2 linked regions of the Homo sapiens genome follow. The gene in region 2 interacts genetically with the main gene of each other region. Each region holds a gene or a part of one and is shown on either strand. Other genes may lie near its edges.

Evidence for each region.
Region 1: changes in CLPTM1 (region 2) and GBF1 together harm fitness more than expected from each alone (negative genetic interaction), as found in Homo sapiens cells (one study listed by BioGRID).

What each region holds. Positions count from the first base shown.
Region 1 is NC_000010.11:102,360,224-102,364,032, forward strand, and holds part of GBF1 (Golgi-specific brefeldin A-resistance guanine nucleotide exchange factor 1), read left to right. Parts: coding exon 1-172; intron 173-798; coding exon 799-897; intron 898-1,494; coding exon 1,495-1,689; intron 1,690-2,251; coding exon 2,252-2,441; intron 2,442-3,032; coding exon 3,033-3,173; intron 3,174-3,486; coding exon 3,487-3,575; intron 3,576-3,809. UniProt on the Homo sapiens protein: Guanine-nucleotide exchange factor (GEF) for members of the Arf family of small GTPases involved in trafficking in the early secretory pathway; its GEF activity initiates the coating of nascent vesicles via the localized generation of activated ARFs through replacement of GDP with GTP.
Region 2 is NC_000019.10:44,989,786-44,993,594, reverse strand, and holds the end of CLPTM1 (putative lipid scramblase CLPTM1), read right to left. Parts: intron 3,201-3,809; coding exon 3,010-3,200; intron 2,746-3,009; coding exon 2,650-2,745; intron 2,358-2,649; coding exon 2,222-2,357; intron 1,363-2,221; coding exon 1,195-1,362; intron 985-1,194; coding exon 698-984; 3' UTR 254-697; downstream 1-253. UniProt on the Homo sapiens protein: Involved in GABAergic but not glutamatergic transmission. Binds and traps GABAA receptors in the endoplasmic reticulum (ER).

The sequences.
Region 1 (3,809 bases), on a different chromosome or scaffold from region 2:
GCTCTTCCGCTTCCTCATCTCCCTCACCAATCCACACGACCGCCATAACTCAGAGGTTATGATTCACATGGGACTGCATTTGCTGACAGTGGCCCTTGAGTCAGCCCCTGTAGCCCAGTGCCAGACCCTCTTGGGCCTCATCAAGGATGAGATGTGCCGTCACTTATTCCAGGTAAGACAAGATTGCTAGAGGGTCTCAGAGCCTCTTTCAAGGGCCAGGGGAACACAGGGAGGTCTGGCTGATTACGCAAAGAGTATAGGACCTAGGAAAGCATCTCCCTCCCAGTTGGCTAGTAGTTTTAGTAAGAGGGTTCCAGTAGTTCCCCAGGGACTCTGGCAGCCAGAGAGAAATATAGGAATGGCTAGATGTAGAGTTCCCTGGAAGCAATGGACCTCAGTGACACCTTCACTCAGTTTGCCTCTTCTGCCTCTCTTGGTTGAGCCATAGTCAGCTTCAGAAACCTCACAGCCGGGCTGGGTGCAGTGGCTCACGCCTGTAATCCCAGCACTTTGGGAGGCCAAGGCGGGCGGATCACGAGGTCAGGAGATTGAGACCAGCCTGACCAATGTGGTGAAACCCAGTCTCTACTAAAAATATCAAATTAGCTGGGCATGGTGACGTGCGCCTGTAATCCCAGCTTCTTGGGAGGCTGAGGAAGGAGAATATCTTAAACCCAGGAGGCAGAGGTTGCAGTGAGCTGAGATTGCGCCACTGCACTCCAGCGTGGGCAACAGAGTGAAACTCCGCCTCAAAAAAAAAAAAAAAAAACTCATGGCCTACCCTGCTCTCATCTCCAGCTACTCAGCATAGAGCGACTAAACCTTTATGCTGCTTCCCTGCGAGTATGCTTCCTACTGTTTGAGAGCATGCGAGAGCACCTCAAGTTCCAAATGGAGGTGAGTTTCTTGATGTGGAAAGAAAAGGGGGAAAAAAAATAGGGAGATATATGGCATCTTCAGTGGGGCCAGCTCTATCATGCTACAGGGGTAGGATTTAGGGACTTCCTATAGGAGAGTCCTTTTAGCCTCCAGAGTTCGGTTCAATCAACTGGCCTCTTTTGTGGAAAAGTTAAAAGGAGACCAAAGGAAACTGGCTGACCCCAAATATGAGAACTGCCAGGTAACCTTACCATGAATAGGGACAGCTCTTCTGCCCAGCAGTTACTCTGCAACACAGGTAGGTAAGTCAAGCCAGCATTGTCACTAAATTGCTAAAAGGAACTCTAAATAGGACCAGGTCATGTTCACATAGCACAAAAGGGCAAGAGGCAACTTGTCTGGGACCAGGTATGTGGTAGAGAGCCAGGCCTTATCCCCCAACATGGAGGCCAAAGAAGAGATATATTTAGGGGATGGAATACCTTTGGGTGTCTCTTAATACATGCCTCTAGGCTGGGCTTCTGCATCCTGTTTAATGTTTTTCCTGTCTAATTTTTTCTCTTCCTATCTTGAATCCTTTCCCCACCCAAATGGCAATTACTGGGTTATTGCCAGATGTACATCAAAAAGCTTATGGAGATCATCACTGTGGAGAACCCCAAGATGCCTTATGAGATGAAGGAGATGGCACTGGAGGCCATTGTGCAGCTCTGGCGCATCCCCAGCTTTGTCACAGAGCTCTACATCAACTATGATTGTGACTACTACTGTTCCAACCTCTTTGAGGAACTCACAAAGCTGCTGTCCAAGGTGCTGAGCACTATAACTGGCTTCTAGGAAAAAACGCATTATAAAGGAAATCTCCCTGGTGGTAGTGAGGATGTTACATACAGAGAGGGGAACACTTGAGAGCTGGGAAATAGAAGAAAGGCATTTTCTTTTCTTTTCTTTTTTTTTTTTTTTTTTTTTTTTGAGATGGAGTCTCACTCTGTTGCCCAGGCTGGAGTGCAGTGGCGCGATCTCGGCTCACTGCAAGCTCCACCTCCCGGGTTCACACCATTCTCCTGCCTCAGCCTCCCGAGTAGCTGGGACTACAGGTGCCCACCACCACGCCCGGCTAATTTTTTGTATTTTTAGCAGAGACGGGGTTTCACCATGTTAGCCAGGATGGTCTCGATCTCCTGACCTTGTGATCCACCCGCCTCGGCCTCCCAAAGTGCTGGGATTACAGGCATGAGCCACCACGCCCGGCCAGAAAGACGTTTTCTAAGGGCAATGTACAAGTTAGAAGAAGTTTTGGAAATTTTAGAAAATGATCAAAGTGTAAAGTGTTCTCCTAACTACAAGTCCAATTGATCTGTTTACTTTCCAGAATGCCTTCCCTGTGTCTGGTCAACTCTATACAACACACCTACTATCTCTTGATGCCCTATTGACAGTGATTGACAGCACCGAGGCCCACTGCCAGGCTAAAGTCCTCAACAGCCTCACCCAGCAAGAGAAGAAGGAGACAGCCAGACCAAGCTGTGAGATAGTAGATGGCACCCGAGAAGCTAGCAATAGTGAGAGGCATTTCTTTCTTTGATGAACCCAGTGTTCTATGCTTATCCCTTCTCTACTCTCTGAGTCGTTTTTCCTGTCCCCATATCACTTCCCCTGGGATGCTCCCAATTCTGTTTCTGGGCTTTGGCAGTTTAAATCACAGGCCAGTCAGGCAGATTAGTAGAACTCATAGCCTTCTCCCTTTTTCCTCCTCCCCACTTTGGTTTTTTACAGAATTATTATTTCTTTATGGCAAGAGAAGAGAACAGAGATTAAAGAATATAGGATTTCTGTCTCTGAAAGCTCCAGGTCCCACCATCCCTCATCCCCAATATCTGCCTCCACTCTAATTAGTCCTCTCTAGCTCCCCCTTGAAATTTGAGGTTGCAGAAGATCAGGGAAAGTGACTGGGTAATCTCTTCATTAAATTAGAGAATCTAATGCTTGGCTGGGACAGGGACTACTTATTTTGGCTTGGGTTTGTCCTGCTCAGGGCTGGCGCCCTGTGCAGGAACCATGCAGGTCTTCTGGGCTTGGGATTTGATCTATCCTGCAGCTCTGCTTGGCTTCATACCCTATAAGTCTTCACGTATCTTCTTCTCTCTTACCAGCTGAGAGAACTGCCAGCGATGGGAAAGCTGTAGGCATGGCCTCAGACATCCCAGGCCTGCATCTGCCAGGTGGAGGGCGGCTGCCACCAGAACATGGGAAATCAGGATGCAGTGATCTGGAGGAAGCTGTTGACTCTGGGGGTGGGTACTGGGTGTCCATGACCCTAAGCTCCTCACCTGGAGGGCCTGGTGAAGAGCAGAGGGAGGGAGCAGACACCTAGGATAGTAACTAAGCAAGCCTTGGTAGCCCGCCTCGCCTTCAGACTCAGAGAGAGGGAAGCAAACATATGGACCCTCAGTTGATAGGACTTCCAGGGAAGTGGAAGACTGGTGAGGACAAGATTTCTGAGGCTCCTTCTTGAAACTGGGGAGTATATTGGTGACCTTCCAAAAGTCCTTATCTGGGTAAAAAAAGGTGTTACAGATATTTCCCCCCTCTTCTTCCTACTCCTAGCTGACAAAAAGTTTGCCCGGAAGCCACCCCGATTTTCCTGTCTCCTGCCAGATCCACGGGAACTAATTGAAATTAAAAACAAAAAGAAGGTACATACATGTATTCCCCAGCCTCTGTCCACCTCTGTCTGGGTGTCCAGTGTTGTAGGGTTTCCATCTCAGAAGATGAAGGAGAGTCTAGCACCTCATTGTACAGCTTCCTGAGGCCAGTCTTTGGGCTTGTTGGGACTTCAGCAACTCCCATTTGAAGCCCTTCCCTTACTCCTAAGCTATGTAGTTGAGCATACCCTATGTATGCCCCTGCGCAAATGCTGTACCAGTTGA
Region 2 (3,809 bases):
TTGGCCAGACTGGTCCCAAACTCCTGACCTCAAGTGATCCATCCACTTCAGCCTCCCAAAGTGTTGGGATTATAGGTGTGAGCCACTGCGCCCGGCCAGGTATGGTTCTTGACACAAGGTCACAATCCCCACCTTTACAGGTCCCGTACCGTGTCAGGTCACTCTCCCAGACCCAGGAAAGCCACCTCATCCCTGCTGGAAGCTGTTGTCCAAGGCAACAGAGGAAGGAAGGCACGAGGAGGAGGGGCAGTGCTGAGTTTAAGTTAAACACCCATATGAATTTATTAAATCCAGACTGTGTTAAAGGGCGGCGGTCTAGGAGGGGGAGTGTGGTAGGGGGACGAGGGACAAGATGATGAACGGCCGTGGGCATCCCGTAGGGGGGCCCGGCCCCACCCCCGCCCAACCCACCCCCTCGGCAACGCTGCATCAGCTTCACCATGATTCCCAGTGGTGCTGGGCTGGCAGGGCGAGATGGCTGGAAACACAGAGGGACAGAGGGACAGACAGCGCCTCCACAAACAAACCCTGGCCTGCCCCGGCCCCTACATCACACGCTGGGCCCTGACCTGAGGCGGGCCTCCCACCGCCCCGGCCTGATCTGTCCAGGGAAAGGGCGACAGGGAGGGGAGGCGAGGGGGCCGGGACGCAGGGGTAGTGGTCGCCAGGAGCCGGAGCAGGTGAGGACCAGTCTCGACTAATCCTTTTTCTTGTCCTCTGCTGGCTTTGGAGGGGCTTCCTGGGGCTCGCTGGCAGAGCTGGCCCCCTGGGTGGGCTTGGTGGGCAGGGACGTGGAGGCCTCCTCCCTGGTGGCGGTGGTCGTGGTGGGTGCAGGTGTGGGCGTGAGGGCCCCTGCTGCTGTGGGAACCTCGGCCACGGGGGCGGCAGCTGTGGGGTCTTCTCCACTCATGCCAAACTCGTTGACTCGGGTGGGGTCGACGCGGTAGATCCACCGTTGGTAGAGGTAGATGAAGAAAACCACATCTGGAGAGGGGTGGGAGGCAGTGTGAGGTCGGGCTGGCCCGTCCACAGCCAGGTGGGCCTGGGTGGAGAGGGCGTGATGCAAGGGCGGGGCCGAGCCCCCTCAGACTGAGCACCCCATCTGGGGCCGTGGCACCCCCTCAGGCCTGGGCCCTAAAGACTGCCTCAGGGCCCTGTTCCGGTGGGAGCTCCCACCTGCCCACCGGGCCTCACCGTCCCGCAGGCAGCCGATCCGGTACATAACGGGCATCTTGATGACAAAGGCGAACAGGTCGTCGATGAATGTGTTGAGGGCCTTGTAGGTGAGCATGCGCCAGGGAAGGTGGGCCACAGACTTGAGCTTGTAGTTGATGAAGAGCTGGGGCGTCATGGTGATGAAGCCTGCAGTGAGAGCACCCATGAGCAGAGGGATGGCCTCTCCCACCTCTCCCCTGTGCACTCTGCACTGGCCATACCAGCCCCCTCACCACTTCCTACACCTGGGCACACTCTACCACTTCCTATACCTGGGCACACTCTACCAGCGGCCTCTGCACTGGTGGGGCCTTCTGTCACATCCGCACAGCTCTCTCCCTGGATATCTGAGGCCTCTGTTTAAATGTCCTGTCCTCAGAGGGGCCCCCGGACCCCTATTAATGTGCATCCTCCCACCACTCTGCCCTTCACAGTACTCACTATTGGCTGTGATTCACCCGGTCTTTTGTTTTTTGAGACAGGGTCTCACTCTGTCACCCAGGCTGGAGTGCAGTGGCGTAATCATGGCTCACTGCAGCTTCAACCTCCTGGACTCAAGGGATCCTCCCACCTCAGCCTCCCAGGTAGCTGGGACTACAGGCACGCACCACCACTCCCCAATAATTTCTGTGTTTTTTTGTAGAGATCGGGTCTTGCCAAGTTGCCCAGGCTGGTCACGAATTCCTGGGCTCAAGTGATCCTCCTGCCTCAGCCTCCCAAAGCATTGGGATAACAGGTGTGAGCCACTGCACCTGGCCCTACTTGTTTACTTGTTCCCAAGACACAAAGGCCCCCTGAGAATGAGGACTGAAGCGTACTGTTCATGTCCTCCCTGAAGTCCTCTCTGACCCCAGATGGGGCCATGTGTGCCCTCGGGCCTCCCTATATCCCAGCTCTGCCCACCCTAGGTTGTCCCTGTCTGGGGATGGGTCTGTCTCCTACACTGGGGCTGTGAGCCCTGCGCAGCATGGGGCCTGCTCTCTCCTGGGGCGGCCGGACCGCTCACCGAAGGTCAGCAGGAAGCCGTAGAGCATGCTGAGCACCCAGGAGTACCAGCCCTTGTGCTCCAGGTACAGAAGACTGTAGACGGCATAGCAGCCCAGGAGCGGGAAGAGGATCCAGGACAGGTACCGGAATGCCATCTGTGGGGCCACAGGGTGGGGCTGTCAGCCAGCTCCTCAGCCCTGCCTGGCAGCCCTGCTCCCCGCCCTCACCCACCACACCTGGTCTGGCAGGCCGGGCAGGGGGAATTTCCAGGTAGCCCTGGGGACTCCGGACTCGCCCAGGGAAGCAGTTATGGCAGATGGGGGACACAGAGGATGTGGCACAGGCTGTAAAGCATGGGTCCGGCAGACAGATGGCCGGCCCCGGGTGCCTCAGGGATACGTGGTACCTGGAGACCACCCCCAGGGGCCCACTGTGCAGGACACTCACATCATCATACACTTTGGTCGAGGACTCGATATACGTGGACTTGTCCTTGAAGGATAGGCGGGGGAAGATTCCTGCCACCCTGTGCTCTCGGTCCAGCTGTGGATGAGGTGGGTGCCATGGTCAGTTGCTACGCTGGCTCCCACCCCACAAGCCAGAACCAGCCCCTGCCCTTCCCCACCGTTCCCAGTTCCCCTGCCCCATGTGTGACCCAAAAAATCCCCTGGTGAGAAAATCCCCTCAGTCCTGGGAGTGAGGCACTTGCTGGGAATCCCCCGGGGGCCAGCTCCAGGGTCCAGCTGGGCCACACTACCCCCTCCCAACCCCTGCAGCTCCCGAGACAGCATGGCGCCCCAGCCTTACCCGGACGTCCATGACCTTGGTGATCTTCCAGAGGTCGATGAGGACCCCAATGAAGACGCTGACCTGGACCACGAAGTTGGTCTCGTTGTCCAGGATGTAGAGGAGGACCACGAATGACTGGAAAACGCCGAAGAAGACGGAGCGCACGGACAGGCCCTCCAGGGACTGCCGGCTGTTCCAGAACTGGATATCTGTGCGCAGGGGGTAGGGGGGAACCAGGAGGCTGAGGAGGTGCTGAGACCCTACTGCAGCTCCCTCAGGCCCCCTTGGCCTGCATCCTCACACCCTGGGGTGGGGCTGGGTCCTCAGGAGGGGTGCTGAACGAGACCCCTCTCTCCCAGGAAGGCTCTCATATTCATTGGGTGACCCCCAGAGCACCAGACAGGCGGCACCCCTGGAGCCCTCCCATAGGACGTCAGCACCCAGCACCCCAAGGTGCAGTCCCTTGACTGATGGTGACGGTGACTGGTGCCATGGACAGGGCTCACCACGTGCCAGGTGCTAAGGACTGGTCAGGGAAGCTGCTTCCCTGAGGCCAAACAGCCTGGCATGGCAGAATCTGAAGGGACGCGGGGTCTGTGCCACACCATGGTGCCAGCTCGCCCTCCCTGGGAAGGAAGATCTGTGGCATGCACTTCAAGACCACCTCCTCCAGGCCCCTGCCCTGACACCGGGAAGGAACTGGCTCACAGCCATGCTCAGGAAACTGAAAAGGGCCCTGGGCTCCAGTCTGGAGCTCCTTCCAGTGCTCCGCCTAGATGCTGCCAAGGATCCATGTCAGCATGCTCCTCTCTGAGCCC